2 separate regions of the Homo sapiens genome follow, and region 2 is linked to region 1. Evidence: fine-mapped expression QTL. A gene starts in region 1. The other region holds a variant in brackets. All regions are shown on one strand. Distances are between the middles of the regions.

The links. PIP is the estimated chance that this variant, and not a neighbour inherited with it, causes the effect.
Region 2: its variant is the best candidate, but not a certain one, in a credible set for the expression of ZFHX3 in whole blood (INTERVAL, PIP 0.89).

Annotation. Positions count from the first base shown.
Region 1 is chr16:73,045,973-73,050,361 of GRCh38, reverse strand. It overlaps ZFHX3 (zinc finger homeobox 3), which reads left to right and starts at 2,234. Exons shown (of 10, transcript NM_006885.4): 1 at 2,234-2,610. It overlaps LOC124903719 (a long non-coding RNA gene), which reads right to left and starts at 2,784. Exons shown (of 2, transcript XR_007065116.1): 1 at 2,562-2,784; 2 at 1-236. RefSeq lists enhancers at 1,333-1,868, 2,405-2,940 and a silencer at 1,794-2,643.
Region 2 is chr16:73,079,354-73,083,742 of GRCh38, reverse strand. It overlaps a transcript of ZFHX3 not described here. Among named protein-coding and RNA genes, the nearest start is that of HCCAT5, 11 kb to the left of the region's middle. The variant T/C (reference allele first, on the strand shown) is at 1,986.

The DNA.
Region 1 (4,389 bases):
CTCTCAGTTCTACTTGTCAGGCCTCTCAAGTGCAGGAGGCAGGTTGCAGGGTCTGCCTCTTGGGACAGTGGCAGTATTAGGGCAGATCCCGTCCGGGCCTTCTGCCCAGGCAGTGCTGCATCCTCCCAGGTTACTTTAATAGCTTGTTCTTTGGGCTTTCTAGCTTTTATTTTATTGAAGGTATTTGTCTGTGGGCCTACCAGGATCATGATGTCACCAGATTACGAGGTTGTCCCCTGTTAATAAAAATGAAGATAAAGCAGCAAAATTAGATTTTCTGAGAGTATCAACATTTTCTTGTTGTCTTTAATTTATCCAGCAGGCCTTACCTATCCCAGGTAAGGAATCTTCGTTTTTCCGGAGAGATTGCCAGAGGCATCTCTGCGTTGTGGGCCACGTTGCTTGCGGTCCTGCTAGCATACGTCATCTTCATGTCTTATTCATAGTCACTTTTTCAATTAAATTATTAATTGTTTTCTTTAAGGTGTTCTCAACTTATATGGCCAATATAAATAACAGTGTGTTTTGAAAACACCACCTGTTCTTGGGCCTGAAGTCAGGTGGTCTGGAAGCAGCTCTGCAGTGACCATAGTCTGGTTTGCAAACTCATCCTCCACCTTCCCTGTTGGCTCTTAACTCCCCCCACCCGGCCCCCGTGCTCTCACGTGTGACTGAATTGGGCTTGTGCCCTCCTTTGTCCCTAATCGGACATGATTCCCTGGAGGCAGTCTTTTCTCCCAGGGCCTTAGCTGAAATAAATAAATAAATAAATAAATTTCCCCAGAATCTATTCTGGACTAAAATGTAGAAAGGGGCTGTCTGTACCCAACAGGTTAGATACTTACATTAATCTGAACCCAACTTACATTGTGCAAAAAGCCTTCTATACGGGGATGTGATGGTTTTCACCAGCTAAGCATCCCTTTTTCTCCCGAGTCAGTGTGTGCCTCATGCTAATACAATTCCATACATACTGCTCTTCGCCTCATGAGCTGATTATATTTCTAACACTTGCATGGTTCATTATTGTGCCCGAGGAAAAGACTCTCCAGGCTGTAAGGCCAGCCTGGGTGGGTGGTTTTCAGAAAGGGTAAAAGCAGGTGCCTTTCTGTGCTGTGAGAATCGGGAGTAAATTCAGACTGAGGGTGGGATTCTGACAGGGAGGACAGAGGACTTCCGGTGAGATTTCTTTGGGGCTGGCTTTCAGATGAGAATGGAAAAAGGTGGACTTGGGGAGATAGAAGGCGCCCAGCAATCGCTTTGACCAACTGGAAAAGGTGAACTTGGGGAGATAGAAAGGCGCCCAGCAATCACTTTGACCAACTGGGGTGGCCGCTTTAAATCTTACCCTGGCGGTAGGAACTCCCTGGGAAAGGGCACGATCTTTGCTATCTCTGCGGTGATGTGGCTTTATAAGGTGAGGCTAAGGAGCCTGGAGGCTTACATGGTAGACTGCATCTCCTTTTCTTCCCACTTCTTTTCTTCCTATCTTTCTAGTGATCTCTCCTTTTCTCTTTCTCTGGCCTCAAAAACTATCCTTAAACTCTCAACGGAGAGCAGGGGGATGTTTTTATAAGTTTCTGCAACTGAAAAACAGAAGTGCTCTGTAAAGCAGTTAATAGGATGGGTGTGTGTTTCCAATAAATTCCTGTCCACATTGGCTCCTGTCCCCATGCTTGAGTGGCCTGGCTGTGACGTGGACGGGGCCCAGGGAGCGATGGCTCCGGTTCGGAGGCCTCAGGCTCCTTTTAGTGGCCGAGGGCGCGTCCCTTTCTTCTCGCCCGATTCTAGGCCGGCCCCTGACCTTTGATGAGCGAGGGGTCAGCGCCTCCGGGAGGGCCTGGGCTTTGTTCCCGCCGGGGCCGGTTCCCGGGGCGGCGCAGGCCGAGCGGCGAGGGTTCCTGGCCCCAGGCGGGTGCGCGGGACCCCCGGCCTGCCCCAAGGCCCGCGCCCCAAGCGGAGCGAGCGCAGCTGAGCGCCCGGGTCCCGCGCGTCCCTGTGCGTCCCCGGGTCCCTGCGGGCGGGCGGGCGCGGTCGCCGCCGAGCAACCCGGCCTGCGCCCGGCACGACTGTAGATGTCAGGCTTTGCCCGGGGAGCCGAGCGGCAGCGGGGCTGTGAGTTTCAAATTAACCTTCCGCTTTGTTGCTGTGTAATGTGGATCCCCGAAGGCCCCCCGCCCCGCCCGCCCCCCTTCCCCGGGCGGTGCGCGCTGCAAACTGCGAGTTGGGCTTCATTTACATAAAGCGATTCCGGGCGGGCGGCGGCAGAGGAGGAGGCGGCGGCGGCGGGCAGGCCGGGGACCCGGACGCCAGCGCCGCGCCCCGTGGGTGAATCCCCGCCGCGTCCCGGGGACCTCCCTCCGGGGACGGGCCGACCGCCAGCCCTGCCGCCACCATGAGCTCCCCTCCCCTGTCTCCGGGCCCCCTGCTCCTGACCAGAGCCACCTCCGAGTCCTGGGGCCAGCGGGAGGTGGGGAGCATGCCGCCTGGGGTGGGTGAGCTCGGGGCTCGGGTGCCACTGGAATTTCCCGTTGTTGCGCATGGCGGCGCGGCCCCCGGACCTGCAAGTGCCGCCTCCCTCCGGAGGTGCGCGGAGGCTTGGTGTGCCAGGTGAGTGCAGCCTCCCTCCGGGTCCGCGCAGCCGGCCTGGAGCCGCGGGCAGGTGCTGCGAGTCTTGGCTGAACTTCCCATTCTCTTGGGGCGTGTGGGGGAAGGGCAGGCTGGATGCACTTGAACTCCCAGACTCCAGTTGCCACCTACCTAGGGTGAGAGCGCCTAAATTCTGCTGGGCACACAGTAAAGCTCTTCCTTCCTCCTTCCTTCCCTTCCCTCTGTCCTCCCCTCCCTCCTCCTTTCCTGAGTCTGCTTTTGGATTAGTTCCTGCCTTCTGAATACTTGTGGTACTGGTGTCATTTAGAAGTTTGGGTGCCTCCGCCTAAAAATGCACCCTTTTCAGCCCTGGAGAAGTCGCTGGTCAGTTCGAAACAATGTGAAGAATGCGCTTGTGGAGTAATTAAAGGGAGAATCAGAGTTTTGGAGCTGGAGGGCACCTTTGGAGATCATCTTGTCCACCCTCTAATTTTAGTTTTTTCGCACTCTTGGAAAAGTCAGAGCATTTATTTCCTTGGGCAGGGGCGGGGTGGGGAGCTGATGCAAAGGAGAGAGTCAAGATTTTTATCCTGTTAGGAGGAGGAATGCCTATGTTTAGGTCAGTAGCAGAAAAACAATAACAACAAAAAGAAGCATTGTAGGCTTGGAGGGAAACGAACCTTCTGGAAAATGTTCTTTTCTGCCTTGGACACACCTGTGTTATGATAGGAAAAGGCCTGGAGGGCAAAGACTGCAGCTCACGCATGGTGTGTGCTAAGAGGGAATTGCGTGGCACAGTGGTACCTCCTGTGTTAAACTGGCTTAAGTGAAAGCCGTGAGCAGGTGAATCCAGGAGGGTCATCCCTCCCCCCACCCTCTGTGTCATTTAACAGTCCTTGAAGACTCCCTAAAGCCACTGACAGAAAACCCCAGAGAGAACAGATGGCTCTGCCTGGGCACAGAAGGAAGGCCTCTCCTTCATACTGGGTCCTGCTTGTCAGAATGCACCAGGGCAAAGCCTTGAAGGTAGATTGTGAGAAAGTTACACATCATCTTATTTCTCTCTATGCTTTGAGATCCTTGGAGACAAGTCACTAAATAAATAGTGTATAATTTAAAGCTCACCCTAGCTGGGGAAACTCTGTTTCCTTGCCGTCAAGCAGCAGGTGCGAGTTTGTAGAGTTGGCCCCTCGAGTTCCCTCATTCCTGAATTCAGGAGGTGTCAAATCTTCACGTTCAGTTAATGGCTGTGGTTTCTGGATAGGTTTCAAGGGAAACCCTGAAAATCACGAGTTCCAGGAGGCTGGGCTGGAGGAGGACACGAGAGTGCTGTGGTGGGGACTGCATTGGGTAGGAAAACATACACCTTCCAAGGTAACCTGATCAAGAAAGGCCGTAGCAAGAAACATGAGTCTGCTCCTTGTTATCAGAACAGCCACTGGCAGCCTGAGATTCTGAATCCCTCTTGCTACTCAAACATGAAAAACAATGAAGGCAAAAGTGAGGTGTGAGGGAAGTCAGGAGACCACGGTTCCAAATAATTGAAGGGTTTCAAGAATGGGGTCTTCACAGAGAGGTACATACCTGGATGTTTGCACGCCTGTATTTGTGTTCATTCTGTTTTGCAGAGACCCTGCAGGCACCCTTTCAGAGAGTGTGTAGCTATGATGGCCAAAAGAAACTTTTTCTCTCTCCCTTTGCTAAATTACAGGACTAAGGAGTTCTCCTCATGGTGTTTCCAGCATAGTTTTCAGAAAGCATGTAAAGTGCCTCTCAGAGTGGGCTGGGGTCACAGTTGGC
Region 2 (4,389 bases), 33 kb before region 1:
GCCTGGGCCACATGGCAAAAACGCATCTCTATAAAAAACACAACAGTTAACCAGGTGTGATGGTGCGCACCTGTAGTCCCAGGTACTCAGAAGGCTGAGGTGAGAGGATGGCTTGAGCCCGAGAGGTCGAGGCTGCAGTGAGCCAAGATTGCACCACTGTACTCTATCCTGGGCAACAAAGTGAGACCCTGTCTCAAAAAATAAAAAAAGAAATAGGAAAGGCATGACTACAAAGAAAGTCACTTGACCATGAAAACCACAAGACTTTCCACCATTCATTTACAGCTTTTCACCCTTTGTGTTTTATATATCAGATAATTATTCAGATGTGTTACCAGTTGTGATACAGAAGGGAACCATAATGGAGAGAAAAGCCAGATGTCCCTGTCCAGCCATGTCACATCCTACCGACACACTTTGTGCCATCACAAGAGGTCTCATTAGCAGTAAGCTCATAACTCAGGTTTTATCTGCATGTTATGCTGACTTAGATGGCTCTACTAAGGTAAGGTGTTGGGGTTTTTTTGTTTCGCTTTTTTGAGACGGAGTTTTGCTCTTGTTGCCCAGGCTGGAGTGCAATGGCATGGTCTTGGCTCACTGCAACCTCTACCTCCTGGGTTCAAGTGATCCTCCTGCCTTAGCCTCCCAAGTAGCTGGGATTACAGGCACCCGCCACCAAGCCCAGCTAATTTTTGTATTTTTTTTTTTTTTTTTTTTTTTTAGTAGAGATGGAGTTTCACCATGTTGGCCAGGCTGGTCTTGAACTCCTGACCTCAAGTAATCCGTCCACCTCGGCCTCCCAAAGTGCTAAGATTACAGGCATGAGCCACTGCGCCTGGCCAGGTTTTGTTTTGTTTTGTTTTAAATACTGTTTCCTGTGTCTCTTTGGCCATTACTACAGATTCCAGTAATGTTGTGATGTTTCAGAAACTGTGTCATCCTTTCTGTGATTTCATCACACTGCATTTCAAAGACTGCTTTTATTCTAAGGAGCTGATTTTTATGAGCAGTGACTAAGAGAAACAATTGGGACTGCTGAGATCTGCCCAGGCACACCACTTCCCTCGTGCCTAGGGAGCTTAGTCTTCCAGTATTCACTCCAGGATCTGCTTTCATCTTATACAAAAAAAAAGAAAGTAAGTTAATGGGAATAAAATGTAAAATTCATTCATTTGGCTGGGCACGGTGGCTCACGTCTGTAATCCCAGCACTCTGGGAGGCCAAGGCAGGCGGATCCTGAGGTCAGGAGATCGAGACCATCCTGGCTAACACGGTGAAACCCCATCTCTACTAAAAATACAAAAAAAATTAGCCGGGCGTGGTAGCGGGCGCCTGTAGTCCCAGCTATTCGGGAGGCTGAGGCAGAAGAATGGCGTGAACCCAGGAGGCGGAGCTTGCAGTGAGCCAAGATCGCGCCACTGCACTCCAGGCTGGGCAACATAGAGAGACTCCCTCTCAAAAAAGAGAAAAAAAAATTCATTCATTCAAAGAAAGGTTACCAAGTAGGATCTTGTGCTAGTTACCATGAGATATTTTGAGGCACCTAAGATAAAAGCTCAGAGTTCAGGAGCTCCTTATCTCGTAGTTGAATCAAGATGTAGACGAGGGCTGGATGCGGTGGCTCACACCTGTAATCCCAGCACTTTGAGAGACTGAGGCGGGTGGATCACCTGAGGTCAGGAATTCAAGAACAGCCCGGCCAACATGGTGAAACCCCGTCTCTAGTAAAAATATAAAAATTAGCTGGGTGTGGTGGTACACACCTGTAGTCTCAGCTACCCAGGAGGCTGAGGCAGGAGGATCCCTTGAACCTGGGAGGCAGAGGTTGCAGTGAGCCAAGATCGTGCCACCGCACTCCAGCTTGGGTGATGGAGTGAGACTCCGTCTCAAAAAAAAAAAAAAAAAAAGATGTGGACAAGAACATTTATAATTACAAGTCAAGGGTCCTATGACATAAGTGCCATAAACATCCAGAACAACGTCAC[T/C]GGAAAAAAGGGTGAGTTCTGCACACTAGAGTCCATTGCCTGACCACAGATTCTAGAATGCATGTGTAAATGGCCTGTGAGAACACTTTATTTTCTTTTTTGACAGAATTGGCATCTACCAGTGGAACAGGGAAATAGAGAATACAAAGAAGAGCTGGGCTTTAGTGAGGCATTTGATAATATGGTTAAAGACAATTTGGGCCGGGCACAGTGGCTCATGCCTGTAATCCCAGCACTTTGGGAGGTCGAGATGGGCAGATCACCTGAGTTCAGGAGTTCGAGACCAGCCTGACCAACATGGAGAAACCCCGTCTCTACTAAAAATACAAAATTAGCCGGGCATGGTGGCGCATGCCTGTAATTCCAGCTACTCAGGAGGCTGAGGCAAGAGAATTGCTTGAACCTGGGAGGCGAAGATTGTGGTGAGCAGAGAGCAGAGATTGTGCCATTGCACTCCAGCCTAGGCAACAAGAGCAAAACTCTGTCTCAAAAAAAAAAAAAAGAAAGAAAGAAAGACAATTTGCTCATTTATCTCATGGAAAAGAAGATGAAAGATGAAGTACAAATTAGTTAGTGATTGGTATCAATGTGGAGGAGATTTCTGGTGCTGGGACAGTGAGGTTTTGGTAGTCCATGTGTGATTATCATGACATCATATGTTGCAAGATAAAGAATTCAAAAGATTTTTGATAGACCAAGGCAATGCACCAAATCTAGCAAGGTGAAATGTAACACAAGAAAATGGCAGGTCTTGACCTTGGACCTGAAAACCCATCTGCACAAACTCGGGTGGAGGGAGCCAGGCTTGGTAAGAAGTATTAGAAAAGACCTGAAGCTTTTTTCTTTTCAGACTTTTGGGCACATTTAAGAATCACCTGGCTGAGCACAGTGGCTCACACCAGAAATCCCAGCACTTTGGGAGGCCAAGGCGGGAGGATTGCTTGAGGCCAGGAGTTCGAGACCAGAGCCTGGTCAACATAGCAAGACCCTGTCCCTACAAAATAATGTTTTTAAAAATTAGCCAGGCATGGTGGTGTATGCCGATAATCCCAGCTACTGGGGAGGCTGACGTGGAAGGATCATTTGAGCCCAGGAGTTTGAGGCTGCAGTGAGCTCTGATCATACTACTGTACTCCAGCCTAGGCAACACAGCAAGATCCCATCTCAAAAAAAAAACAAAGAAAAAGTCACCTGGCATAAATGTTTAAAATGTGGATTCCCAGGTGCTACCCCAGATTGTCAGATTCAAGTTTGAGGTGTGGACCAAGAATCTCCATTTATTAAAGTGTCTTAGATAGCTCAGACTGCTATCACAAAATATCATAGACTAGGTGGCCCAATCAACAGACATTTATTTCTCACAGTTCTGGAGGCTGTGATCAAAATACCTACACATTCAGTTCCACCCTCTTTTGGGAGGACACAAACTTTCAGTCCATAACATGAAGCTCTCTGGGTCATTCTGAAGTAGGAGCTCCATGAGCCACACTTTCTGAACCGCTGTCTTAGAGGTTTCAGTTAATGGGTGGAGGCTTTCACAATTGTACTGGGCAAAAGTGTAATGAGGAGAACAAAGAGGTGAGAATCCTGCTGTACTGTGGGAGACAGAGCAGATGTGGATAATTCACATTTAATATTGGGCCATGACATTTTAAGAAGAGAGTCAAACTGGAAACAGGAAGGCAAAGGGGACTCAGAGGCAGAGCCTGTGAAAAAGAGTTGAAGAAACTGGCAGTTCCTAGCTCAGAAAGATCAGACTGAGAGAGGAGGCCAGGACAGGAAAAGGTTGTCTGCATCAGGGAATTAAACTTGCTCTGTGTGACCTCACAAGGTGACACTAAGACCAGTAGGCAAGAACCACAAGGGATCTATTTAAAAGGCTCAAAATAATGACCATCTTCTCTAACAATCAGAGCCAGCTGTCCACAGTGCCAGAGGTGCTCAAGCAAGGGCCAGAGAACACATTTAAATGATTCTTCAGGAAATTGGGTAATGAATGGAAGGATGGCACATCAAAAAGGCAGTAGAACCAAGGCAAGTGTTACTGTTCTTGTTCTTGTTTGATTGGAGAGAATACAGCATGTGTAGGTTTCCAAGTAGAAAGGGAGTAAAGATAGGAGGCCAGGTGTGGCAGCTCACGCTTGTAACCCCAACACTTTGGGAGGCCAGGGTGGGAGGATCACTTGAGGCCAGGAGTTGAAGAACAGCCTGGGCCACATAGTGAGATCCCATCTCTATTTTTAAAAAATTAAAAATAATTGGTTTTTTTTGGAGACAGAGTCTCGCCCTGTCCCAACCTCTGCCTCCTGGGTTCAAGTGATTCTCCTGACTCAGCCTCCCAGATAGCTGGGATTACAGGCATGTGCCACCATTCCTATCTAATGTTTGTATTTTTTGTAGAGAC